Homo sapiens: one gene and its partner. The protein of the gene in region 1 interacts with the protein of each later gene in a pairwise test. Each region holds a gene or a part of one and is shown on either strand. Other genes may lie near its edges.

Region 1 (3,753 bases):
TAAATTATATTACGACTAATGTCACAGGAATGACAATATTTTTGAGCTGGAAGAGACCTTTGAGAGCCTCTAATCCAATGCTCTCATTTTACAGATGAAAAGAGGCTGTAAAGTATAATGGAAAAAAAAAACCAACCTGAGAGTCAGAAAACTGAATTTTGGGCCCAACTGTCTTACAGTGAAAGCCTGTGCAAATTATCTGCTTCCTCATCTGTAAAATGAGAGGTTTGTACTAGATTGCTTCCAAGATCCGGTTCAGCTCTGTAATTCTTAGTTTATGGAACTGAAGCAGAGATAAGCAACTTGCCCAAGGTCACACAGCTAGTTAATAGCAAAGTAAAGACTATCCTCAGATCCCAACTACAATCACTTTCTCCCCTATACCATACTGCTTCTACTACTTCATAACAATATTCCTGTAATTTATTTTAAGATTCTTGAAAATTATTAACAAGCATGAAGGAGTTTATGAAACTACATGACTGATTTCTACAGCTCTTCTATAGGAAATGAGCTTTAAATCCAAATGCAACAAGTACATGAGGTCTCAAGCTGGGTATTATTACTTACTACACTTATTAATATTAAATTGACCCCAAGAAAGTTATGAGAATTTATGCTTAAATTCCCACCACCTAAAAATCCAACTCACAGAAGAGATTATGTGCCATGCAAAATTAAAATATGAATTGTTATAAGTAATGATACATATTATAGGTATAATTCTAGGAATAAGATGAGAATTTAAATTCTTCATTTTATGTTCTAGTTATACTTAATATGCATTTTAAATTCAAAAGAGATCAATTTAAACACTTTTCTTTCTTCTTCCCTCTTTTCAGACTCTCTAGCTTTAAAAACATTAGAATAACTTAAGCATATTACTTCTGAAATCACGTAAACAATTACAAATAAAAGACTATATAAACTATGCTCATAATTTCTCTTACAAAATTGAAAATCAGCCCCCATAGTATTCTAAAATTCTGTGCTGAAATATATTACAACTCTACTAAACTGTATCATAAACAGCATTTGGTTCTCTAAAATGTCTTAAGCTTATTATATTTCACAGGGAATTTAGCAAGATTTCATGAAGACTGATCTTGCTGACACAAGAAAAGACAGAAAAATCCTCAGAGGAAAAGCACAATAAAAATGCAAAATAGTAATAAAGTCAACAACAACAGTAGTTTCATACTACTGACTTGCAAGAACATTCAAAAACGTTAATGAATATATATAAGTATAGTTTAACTATATTTAGGGATTTTTAAAAAATCACAGAATGTTTACATTTTTAAATTGGATGAAGCCTTAAGTCACTAATCCAATAGCACTCATCGTAAGAATCTACAGAATTTATCTCCACCTCCCCAAAAAATATGTCCCTGTAGTCCACTTTAAATTCTCAAAACTAACTACTTCTTTCCATTGTTGTTAGCTGTTGCGAGTTCCATTGTTGCTCCACTGTTCCACTGTTCCAAGTCTAGTTGTCATACAGTTCTTACATTCTGGTAAAAAATTAGACTGACCTCAATGTCTTCCTAATTTTCACCCGTTGGTCTGCCTTCTAAAGCAGGAGAATGGATCTATTCTCCCTCCTATTTATTAAAATTAACAGGTTTTTAAATCCTATTTACTGAAATCCAAGTTTCTTAAATACCTGGAGACAGCTATCACGTCTCCCAACCGTTAGTCTCTTCTTTAAATGTATCTTCCATAGACTTCCTGTAGGTCCTAGAGACATTTTTGGAATACAATATGCTTTCACATTGTCAGTAACTTAAAAAACAAAAAACAAAAAACTGCCACTTGTTGAATTTTGATGTAATACCAAAGAAGAATACTCACTCTTTCCTTTTCCAACCATATATCTACATGAAGCTGGATTCTCTTCACATATCTCAACCAAAACATCATAACAGACTGAAGGCAGACAAAAAATCCAGCTGTCTTCTCCAAGTAAGCCAGAAATCAAGGTGATTTGCAAAAATATAAAACAATGCCACTGGTCTAGTTTCTTTGGTTTTAGGACATATTTATTCTTCATAAAAAATTCTATTTACAACACAGTTTAAATTAATAAATATATTTGAAATTGTCATTTAATTTCTAAAAGAGCAAATATTAGTAGATATAATCTACATAAACCTAAATCTCTTGGGGTCCTCAATAATTGTTAAGAGAGTAAAGAGGCCCTGAGGCCAAAAGGCTAAAGCATAGTCTATTTCTCATAAGATTTTCAAACCTCCGTTCTGGTTTCTCTCTTTTATCTCTCTCCTCTAATATGTAAATGTGCCATTGTAAAGGAGACATCTGTCACATATCTATTCATGAGCTAGAATCCTTAAACACATAACCCTGTCCTCCTCCAGCTAGTGATTTCAAAAAATTAAAGGCCTACAGGGCCATCTGGTACACCTTCGTTTTTAACATCTCATTACTAAATCATCTGAAGTCAATTACTTTAATTCTTCTAAGGAATGCAGTCTTTAAATATGGAAACAGAGGAAGTTTACAGTTTAATCGAACTATCATGCCATCTTTTTTTTGAGAAAGTATCTCACTCTGTCACCCAGGCTGGAATGCAATGACGCTATCTAGGCTTACCGCAGCCTCCACCTCCCAGGCTCAAGCAATCCTCCCAACTCAGCCTCCTGAACCATGCCCAGCTAATTTTTCTATTTTTTGTAGAGACAGGGTTTCACCATGTTGTCCAGGCTGGTCTTGAACTCCTGAGCTCAAGCAATCCACCTGCCTAGGCCTCCCAAAGTGCTGGGATTACAGGCTTGAGCCACCACTCCTGGCCCATACAATCTTTTTGACCAAGCTTTCACTATTTACAAAAAAGTAAAGCAAATTATTTATAATTGGCAGGTTGGAGCAGGAAAGAAAATGCAAGTGTTCTATATAATCAATCATCTGATTCTCAGCAATAACCCATTCAAAAGTACCCATGTACTGATATGCAAAAAAACCCAACTACTTATCTAGCCAATATGACACTAGGTTCCTAGACTTCAACAAAGCAAAACTGGCCTTTACTTGAAAACCTTTTTAACTCGTCACTCCCTTAATCACAGGATTATAGAAGACAAAATGGGATGGAGATTATAGGTTTAAAAGATTCAACAGAAAATCTAGAGCTACATCGCTGAACTCCTCTAACAGAACCACAAGACTGACAAGCGAAAAGCTTTGGGACCCGAGGGAAAGAAATCTATACTATATTTATCACATAATTTCCTAAATTCTAATAGATTCCCAAATCTTATAGAGCTGTATTTTATTTGTGATAAAACTATGTGAATATGATAATGGTAATAAGGTAAAAAGAAACAAAACTACAACATACAGCATCAAAAATAATCAGATCATAATCTTAGGTTTGTGGTTTCAAATGTCAAAACTTCAAAATAAGTAACTTTTACAGATGCTTATGGCATATTTTTAAAAATAACCCATTTTCAAAGTTAAGTCTGCCTAAAAGGAGTTCATCACATAGAATATTTATGTAAGTTCACATACATGTGTATCTCTTTTAAGTTTCAATTATTCTATTACTATATGTTAAACTGACTCAATTTTTCAAGAAACAAAGTTAGTTTTCACCGTGATACATACAATACATTCAAGTTCCATTAATATTAACGGTTCTTACTAGCAGTAACTAGCAGTTAAAAAGCTTTCTAAAACTTCATCAATTTATATAATGTACTAACATGTATACCTGGAAAAGGTGCTAAACAC
Region 2 (3,753 bases), on another chromosome or scaffold:
TGAGGCAGGAGAATGGCATGAACCCGGGAGGCAGAGCTTGCAGTGAGCCGAGATCGCGCCACTGCACTCCAGCCTGGGCGACAGAGCGAGACTCCATCTCAAAAAAAAAAAAAGAAAAGAAAAGAAAAAGAAAAAGAAGAGGAGGGTTCCAGGCACAGGTACAAAGGCACATAAGTGGGAAAATGTATGGCTCCTTCAGGGACCACAGTAGTTCCGTGTGGCTGGTGTATGGAAGGTGGAGCCATGGTATGAGATGAGGCCATTTTCACTGCACGCACAGAAAAATGACAGTATTCATACATGCATATGAGGATAACTGGAGAGGTTGCTCGGGGCCCAGAGCAGCCTGCATCTCAGCATACTTATACCCTGTTCAGGAAGCTGTGCTGTAGAAGATGGGTTGGAGAGCTTTCCACCTTGGAGTGACACAGTCAGATCTAAGTAATATCAAGAGTCCCCTGGAGAGTGATACAGGGGCAGAGAATAAAGGCAGGAAGTGGTCAGGAAGGAGACCCCGGCTATAATCCAGGCAAGAGGCAATGAGGGCTCACATAAGGTAGCAGTGGTGGAAAAGGAGGTGAATTACAGATAAGCTTTAGGTTAAAACAATAGCGCTGGTGACTGGTGGGATGTGGAAGGAAAAGGAGAGACAGGAACATGCTGGGCAGGTGTCAAGCAGCACCACTGATTACGACAGGAAACCATGAGAGAGGCAGAGTGTAGAAAAGGCATCGTGGAAGAGGCAGTCTCAAAAGTCAGCCTTGCAGTTAGGCACAAAATAGTCTGGAGTGGAAATAGTAGGTGCCAAGGCACAGAGGTGGGCATGGCAGGTGTCCGTTCTGGGCTAAGCAGCAGAAAAGCAGGCAAGAAGAACCACATGAGAACAAGCTACAGTTGGCCCGCCCAGAGCGTCTTGGGACGCTGAGTTCTGAGAGACATGCGCCTTCATTTGCCCTGGCCCTCAGAACCAGTCTAAATCCTCAGTTCGGCTGCCTTCTCTCTGGGACAGCCCTGAGTGGGAAATAGAGGGTAGCAGTGCAGGGCCCTTCTGGAAGCTTCTCCAGCTGGCCTGAATCACCTTGTGCTCATCAGGGTTCCTCAAATGCAGAGTGGTTCCTAGACAGCCCGAGTCTGCCCTCAGGCACCTATCATTTTGACAACTCATCAATCACCCACCCTGTCTGTGGCTCTTCAGGAACTCAGCGTTTCTCTTAGACCTCGAGCCTCCGAGAAGACGCTGTGCTACGCCCCCAGGGGCGACTTCCGGTCATTGCAGCACCGTGATGTGGATCCGCAAGTGAACCATCAGGGCTGAGCTACGACTGAAGGCCTTCCCACAGTCGCTGCACTTATAAGGCTTCTCTCCCGTGTGGATCCTCTGGTGCTCAATGAGGGAGGAGCTCTGTGCAAAGGCCTTCGGACAAACCTTACACTGATATGGCTTCTCTCCAGAGTGGATTCTCAGATGTCGGATCAGGGCTGAGCAGTCGCTGAAGGCTCGGCCACACGCGTCACACTTGTAGGGCTTCTCCCCGGTGTGGATGCGCTGGTGTTGAGTCAGGTGCGTGCTCTGGCTGAAGGCTTTCCCACACGCGTCACACTCGTAGGGCCGCTCCCCCGTGTGCACCCGCTGGTGCTGGGTGAGGTGAGTGCTGCGGCTGAAGGTTTTACCACATTCCCCACATTTGTAGGGTTTCTCTCCAGTATGAATCCTTTGGTGCTGAGTCAGGTGGGTGACTCGGCTGAAGGCCTTCCCACATTCCTTACACTCATGGGGCTTCGCCCCTGTGTGGACAACCTGGTGCTGGGCGAGGTGAGTGCTCCGGCTGAAGGCTTTCCCACACTCGCTGCAGGCATATGGGGTCTTCCGAGAATGGGTCTTCTGGTGTGCCTCGAGCGCCGAAGCACTCTGGAACATCTTCCTACACTCGCGACACTTGGAGGACCTCTTCCCTGAGTAGGTGTATGGAGGCTCTGTCCCATAAGCATCCACCAGATCAAATTTGTCTTCTGAAGGAGGCTTCTCTTGGGAGGTGAGGTTTGGCCACGCACTAGAACTGTTCCTCGAGGCACCAGATTCACGGCCACGCTGGTCTGTGGGGACATCCTTGTAAGGCCCTGAAGTTTTCTTGAAGTGGATCTGTTGGGTGACAGACTTTGTCCAGATCTCCCCTGATAGTCCAGACCTCTCTGAGCTGCCCTCAGGTTCACATGCCTTGACAAAGGCGGGTCCAAGGGAAACACCTCCCATGAGGGTCTCAGTGACATTTGATGGCTCTGACTCTCCCAGGTCACTCTGCTTGCAGCTTGCCTCTGTGGGCTCGGCTCCTGGATCCCATCCTGAAACAGTCCGAACCACACTGTCACTCCTCCTACCACACCAAGCCTCCCCTACTCTGCCGAGGGCCCCGGTCACACTTTGTAAGGGGAGATGTGGCCCGTTCCTAACATCTGGCCCCAGTTCCAAGGGGAAGTTTCTCATTTGGTGTCTTGGATGACAAAGGGTGCAGGGCTGTCCTCCCACACCATCCAAAACTACACCATGGGTTCTGATTTCTCCTCCTCCCACCAAACTCGCCATCTTTCAAGGCTCCCAATTTTGGCTCAAGAGTCAAGAGGAGAAACCCTGATGTGGAACTGATCTGGAGACAGAGAGAGAGGGAGGGTCTGTCCTTGTCAGGACCCTGAGCACATGCACCCCTGCAGGCTCTGATCTCTGTGGGGTTGCAGTTCTGTCCCTCACACTCAACACCTTGCGTCTAGGCCTGGATGTGTCCCCTGCAGGCTCTGATCTCTGTGGGGTTGGAGTTCTGTCCCTCACACTCGACACCTTGCGTCTAGGCCTGGATGTGTCCCCTGCAGGCTCTGATCTCTGTGGGGTTGGAGTTCTGTCCCTCACACTCGACACCTTGCGTCTAGGCCTGGATGTGTCCCCTGCAGGCTCTGATCTCTGTGGGGTTGGAGTTCTGTCCCTCACACTCGACACCTTGCGTCTAGGCCTGGATGTGTCCCCTGCAGGCTCTGATCTCTGTGGGGTTGGAGTTCTGTCCCTCACACTCGACACCTTGCGTCTAGGCCTGGATGTGTCCCCTGCAGGCTCTGATCTCTGTGGGGTTGGAGTTCTGTCCCTCACACTCGACACCTTGCGTCTAGGCCTGGATGTGTCCCCTGCAGGCTCTGATCTCTGTGGGGTTGGAGTTCTGTCCCTCACACTCAACGCCTTGCGTCTAGGCCTGGATGTGTCCCCTGCAGGCTCTGATCTCTGTGAGGTTGCGGTTCTGTCCCTCACACTCAACACCTTGCCTCTAGGCCTGGATGTGTCCACAGGTGCTCAGTGAATTCTGGCTGAATGAGGGAATCCATCCAGAAGCCCACGATGGTGAAAATTTCTGCAAGTAGAACCCCAGGTAGAATATGGCTGCTGGGGGTGAGTACATGAGGTACCCATCTGGCCTCTCAAGCCCCTACATTGTAAAGTACTATGAAGGCAGAGTGTGGCGGAGGTGCTCTTGGAGATCAGAGTGTGCATGAGGTAGAGGAATGCTCGCACTGACCTGCCCTGCATGGGTGCAAAGGACACATAATCTGGCACATCTACTGGATGGATTCCAGGGAGGAGGCAGAGACAGGTGGAATACCCACTGCTCAAGTCCACAGTGGGGCTCAGCAGTGCAGAAACTGGACTCAAACCCCAGGTCTACCACCTTAATCAGTCCTGCCCTCATCTGGGACTCAGTCTCCCCATCTGTAAGC

What was found.
Region 2: the proteins of TLK1 (region 1) and ZSCAN22 interact in binary tests that used the Homo sapiens proteins (3 or more experiments, as listed by UniProt).

Annotation. Positions count from the first base shown.
Region 1 is NC_000002.12:171,154,294-171,158,046, forward strand, and holds part of TLK1 (serine/threonine-protein kinase tousled-like 1), read right to left. Parts: intron 1-3,753. UniProt on the Homo sapiens protein: Rapidly and transiently inhibited by phosphorylation following the generation of DNA double-stranded breaks during S-phase. This is cell cycle checkpoint and ATM-pathway dependent and appears to regulate processes involved in chromatin assembly.
Region 2 is NC_000019.10:58,336,841-58,340,593, reverse strand, and holds part of ZSCAN22 (zinc finger and SCAN domain-containing protein 22), read right to left. Parts: intron 2,341-3,753; coding exon 1,268-2,340; 3' UTR 1-1,267. UniProt on the Homo sapiens protein: May be involved in transcriptional regulation.